Linked DNA regions of Homo sapiens: region 1 is linked to region 2. Evidence: fine-mapped expression QTL. Tissue or cell type: monocytes after R848. Region 2 holds a variant in brackets; the other region holds the start of a gene. All regions are shown on one strand. Distances are between the middles of the regions.

What was found. PIP is the estimated chance that this variant, and not a neighbour inherited with it, causes the effect.
Region 1: DNAH17 starts here. The variant in region 2 is fine-mapped to the expression of DNAH17 in monocytes after R848 (Quach 2016, PIP 0.95).

What each region holds. Positions count from the first base shown.
Region 1 is chr17:78,575,921-78,578,944 of GRCh38, reverse strand. DNAH17 (dynein axonemal heavy chain 17) reads left to right here and starts at 1,549. Exons shown (of 81, transcript NM_173628.4): 1 at 1,549-1,650.
Region 2 is chr17:78,535,375-78,537,874 of GRCh38, reverse strand. DNAH17 (dynein axonemal heavy chain 17) reads left to right here. Exons shown (of 81, transcript NM_173628.4): 19 at 394-576. Among named protein-coding and RNA genes, the nearest start is that of DNAH17, 41 kb to the left of the region's middle. The variant A/G (reference allele first, on the strand shown) is at 1,392.

The DNA of each region.
Region 1 (3,024 bases), 41 kb before region 2:
ATGCTGAGTTAATTCGTGTAGATGGCGTGAGGTAAGGGCCCAGCTTCGTTTTTCCGCATGTGGGTATTCAGTTATTCCAATACCATTTGTTGAAAAGGTGATTCTTTTCCCATTGAGTTGTCTTGGCACCTTTGCTAACTCAATCGTCCATAAATGGATGCATTTATTTCTGGAACCTCAATTCTATTCTAGTGATCTCTGTCTATTGTTATGCTGGTAGCACTGTCTTGATAACTGTAGCTTTGTAGTGAGTTTTGAAATCAGGAAGTGTGTGTCTTCAGACTTTGTTCTTTTTCAAAGTTGTTTGGATGGTTTTTGTTCCCTCATACTTCCCTATAAAATCTAGGGTCATTTCTACAAAAAAGGCAGCTGAGAGTTTGATAAGGATTGTGTTGAATCTGCAGATCAACTTGAGGAGAACTGTCGTCATCTTAACAATCTTCTTTTTTTTTTTTTTTTGAGACGGAGTCTCACTCTGTCTCCCAGGCTGGAGGGCAATGGCGGGATCTCGGCTCACTGCAAGCTCCGCCTCCCAGGTACATGCCATTCTCCTGCCTCAGCCTCCTGAGTAGCTGGAACTACAGGCACCCACCACCACGCCCGGCTAATTTTTTTGTATTTTTAGTAGAGATGGGGTTTCACCGTGTTAGCCAGGATGGTCTCGATCTCCTGACCTCGTGATCCACCCGCCTTGGCCTCCCAAAGTGCTGGGATTACAGGCGTGAGCCATCACGCCTGGCCCGTCTTAACAATCTTCTAACCCATGAACACAGCATGTCCTTCCATTGATTTAGGTTGTCTTTATTTCCATGATGTTTTGCAGTTTTCAGTGTACAAGTCTTAACACTTCTTTTTAAAGTTTATTCCTAAGTATTTTGTTGTTTTTGACGCTATTGTAAACGAAATTATTTTGATGCTGTTGTAAATGGGAGTTGTTTTCTAAATTTCATGATCAGATTGTTCATTATGGGGACAATTGTTTTCTAAATTTCATCATCAGATTGTTCATAATATAATTACAGAGAAATATAATTAATTTTCAAATATCTTGTATACTGCAAACTTGCTGAATTCCTCTATTAGCTCTACAATTTTATGGATTTCTTGGGATTTTCTACATACAAGATCACCTTATTGTAAACAGAGATAATGTCTTCCTTTCCACTTTGGGAGGATTGCTTGAGGCCAGGAGTTTGAGACCAGCCTGGGCAACAGAGTGAGACCTCATCTCTACAAAAAGTACAAAAATTAGCCAGGTGTGGTGATGTGCGTCTGTTGTCCTAACTTCTCAGGAGGCTGAGGGGGGGGGATCACGTAAGCCCAGGAGTTTGAGGCTGCAGTGAGTTATGATTGTACCACTGCACTCCAGCCTGGGTAACAGAGCGCGACCCTGTCCCCCCTCCAACCTCCCCTCAAAATGATCATCTAAGAGCCTTTCCACTGTGGGGTGACGGTTGGTTCCTCATTTGCTGCGCTATCATTGGTTACTTGGGTCCCAAGGGGAAGGTTCTAGAAGCCCCAGGTACCGTGAGGAGACTCCCAGAAGTTATGTGGCAGTTGGAGCCCCTCGAGGGAAGGGAGCCATTTTCTTTCCTGGTTTGGGAAAGAGTTGCTCATCAGTTTGCGGGAGAAGCTGTTTGCCTTCAGCTGGTGAGCGGCCTTCAACCATGCTGGGGGAGTCGGAGGCCAAGGTGGAGGGAGCAGGGAGGCCTTCAGAGGATGGAGGTGGGACCTAGGCCCTGGCAGACAGCAGACCCTCCACTTACCCCAGAAGTGGCTCTGCTCGCCACCGGGAGCTGTTCATGGCTCTGGGACCCCGAGGCTGGCTGCCACGTACCAGCCTGACCCCTTCCAGGGCTCCAGACTCTTCCCTGCTCCTGGGAAGGCCTTGCCTCAGCCCCCTGGCTTCTCCTGGAAGCCCCTAGCCCCAGCTTCCTCCTGTGGAGTCCTGAAGGCCTGGGGCATGGGCCACCTCCCAGAGAAGCCGTCTCTGCCCCTCCGGAAGCATGGCCTGGGACAACCCTATTGTTAACTGGGACCTCCTGGCCTTCAGCCCAGGAAACGGCTGGGTGGGAGCCTGAGATGAGACCTCCCGATCGTGCAAGAAACTTGCGGGGTGTAGGGGCCCCTCAGCCCACACATGTTATGGCTTGGGAGGCAGCCCACCCCATGCCGTTCTTGGAAGAAAAGATGACTTTGTGAAAGCCCAAATCCACAAAATCAGTAAACCAGAGGATGTTTCCCTCCAGTCCAGTCGCCTGACCAGCTTGGCGAGACTTCCAATCAGGAACCTTCCAGGACTCGGGCTCCCCTGAGTTCCTGATCCCCCTAGGAAATGACGACGTGACGCGTCCCCGGGTCTCGGAGATCCTGGGTGGAGATTAATTCAGCAGCATGCTGAAAGCCCTGTGGGAACCTGGTGAACGAGTCATCTCCATAAATGCCACGCGGTGCTCCTCCTACTTGCCTGGTGGTGTCCCCTTTTTCTTTCACAGATGTGCCTGAATCGGGTGGCTTTGCTCGTGGACCGCCATGTTTCTGCCATTTGCTGGCCAAATATTCCCCAAGTCCTCTCTCAGAGATGTTTGGAGCCTTGAATAAATCTCAGACCATTTGAATAGCATCCAAATGCTATCCACTACTGCTTCCCATCATATAGTTGTTTTGCCGATATATAGTGGCCAGGGTGAAATAAACCTGTTCCGTGGTATTACGTGTCTTTTGGGGAACTGTAGGCTGTTACAAACTTAAAAGCAATAGCTTGGGTCAAACCAAAAGGCAGAATTTGTGAGTGCTTCCAACGTCATCTGTCCACCCTGATGCTTTTCAGCAGCTGCCAGGTCTGGAGCAGGCCAGCCCCAGCCCACGGACCCCCAGAGCAGCTGAATACCCCAGGGTTCCCCTTGAAATTCAGGAGCTGCATACCTCCCAGATTGTGATGAAAACACAGCATCAGGCGACCCTTTGCATTCAACCCTGCCCTTGCAGAACTCGCCTCCAAGGCCCCCACCTCAGGCCTCTTGC
Region 2 (2,500 bases):
GAGCCACTGCGCCTAGCCAACAATGTCTCCATTCTATAAAATATTTAGCCTCATTTTATATATTTGGGGAAACTGGGAGTTAAGTGACTCCCCAAGGCCTCAGAGCTGGCAAGTAGCAGGTGTGGGCTTTGAACCGAGGTCTGAGTTCTACCTGATCCTGCCCCTCCCCTTGCCCCAACCTGCCCCTGCCTGCTTTTGGCCTTGTGGCTGTACATTTGGCTCTGTAGCGATTGCTCAAGGAGCGGGGTGCGCTGAGACACGAGCTCTCAGAAGCTTCCCAGATAAGTGGAAGGCAGTGACACATTGATGGTACGGAGTGGATGATCAGGGCACTGAGAATCATCCGATGGAGGACAGAGGTGTTGACCACTGCCAACCCCACCCCTCTTTCAGGAGAGTATCGCTCCCCTGTTTGAGATCCGCATGGAGCTGGACGAGGATGGGCTGACCTTCAACCCGACCCTGGAGGTGGGCTCAGATCGCGGCTTCCTGGCACTGATCGAGGGCCTGGTCAACGACATCTACAACGTAGCCAGGCTCATCCCTCGGCTGGCCAAGGACAGGATGAACTACAAGGTCAGTCCTGGCCTCTTCTGGCCGTACACAGGGTCATCCATTGCTTTCCCCATTTGGTGTTGCCGCCCTAACTCGGCAAGGCTTCGCCGTTTACCTTTTCTTTTTTTCTTTTTTTTTTTTTGAGACGGAATCTCACTCTGTCGCCCAGGCTGGAGTGCAGTGGCGCGATCTTGGCTCACTGCAACCTCCGCCTCCTGGGTTCAAGCCATTCTCCTGCCTCAGCGTCCCGAGTAGCTGGGATTACAGGCACCCGCCACCACACCCGGCTAATTTTTTTATTTTTTTTTAGTAGAGACTGGGTTTAACCGTGTTAGCCAGGATGGTCTGGATCTCCTGAACTCATGATCCACCCGCCTCGGCCTCCCAAAGTGCTGGGATTATAGGCGTGAGCCACCGCGCCCGGCCCTGCTTACCTTTTAAATGACATCGTGTGACCTCTAGGATGACATGGCCACTTCTCTCCCCACTCCCACATCTGTCGTCCTTCCCAAAGCAGCTTCTTCTCAGTCAACCTGCCTGGGTTTCATTCCCTCATCATCCTTCCAACCCCCCGACACGATGCCAAGAGGGTAACCTTTCCCAACTTCCTGACTGTTCACTCAGTCCTGTAATTTTTTTGAGACAAGGTCTCACTCTGTCACCCAGGCTGGAGTGCAGTGGTTCAATCTCGGCTGACTGCAGCCTCTGCCTCCCGGGCCCAATTGATCCTCCCGCCTCAGTCTCCCAAGTAGCTGGGATTACGAGCATGCATCACCAAGCCCAGCTTGGTGATGTATTTTTTTGTAGAGATGGGGTTTTGCCATGTTGTTGCCCAG[A/G]GTGGTCTTAAACTTCTTAATTTTTTTATTTTTTGAGACAGAGTCTTGCTCTGTTGCCCAGGCTGGAGTGCAGTAGCATAATCTCAGCTGACTGCAACCTCCGCCTCCTGGGTTCAAGCGATTCTCCTGCCTCAGCCTCCTGAGTAGCTGGGACTACAGGTGCATGCCACCATGCCTGGCTAATTTTTCTTTTTTTTTATATATTTTTAGTAGAGACGGGGTTTCACCATGTTGGCCAGGATGGTCTCAATCTCCCGACCTTGTGATCCACCCGCCTTGGCCTCCCAAAGTGCTGGGATTACAGGTGTGAGCCACCGTGCCCGGCCTCAGTCCTGTAATGTAAACACTGATTCTCCCAGTACTCAGGCAATTTGACAAATGTGCCTCCCACTGCCTTCTGAAATCATCTCGTCTAAACGCATCAAACAAGACACACGGAGAGCCTGGCCAGGCTCTGGGGTAGGAAGGACAACAAAAGTCATGGGAAATTCAGCTCCCCGCTTAAGGGAGGTTTGAGGTGGTGTGTTTGTCAAAGCACCTATTTGTATAGCAATAAAAAAAAATCTGAAAAGACTTAAGTGACCTAAATGTTTGTGGAAGAGGGGAGTGGCTTGACCAATTCTGGCCCAAACCCAGATTCTGTGAATTGTCACAATGAGCCAAGGATGGAAAGGTGTTGTGACAGGTTATTAGACATTTATCAAGTTACAGAACAATGTTTAGAATATGGTTTCATTTGCTTAAACAAGCAAAAATCTGGGTGAGTGCTTACCAGGAAGGGAGGAAGGAGGGGAGGGGAGAGGGATGTGGCTGCAGGCGTTTCCTCTCATGCATTTCTGCGTTGTTTGAATTGTAAAATAATGGACACGTATGATTTGTCATAACATATATTTACAGCGAGATGAGCTGTCCTGTCCAGGAGGGAGGGATGTGCGTGTGCTCGTGTGTGTACGCGTGTGCTTGGATGCATATGTGCCCGTGTGCGTATTTGCATGTGTGGTGGGGAGGCATGCTTGTACAGAGGTGACATGAGGACACGAGGGAACAGCTAATGACCTGAGAAGGTCAAGGACAGCTCCTGAGAGGAGTGGGCGTGTGAGCGGATTCTG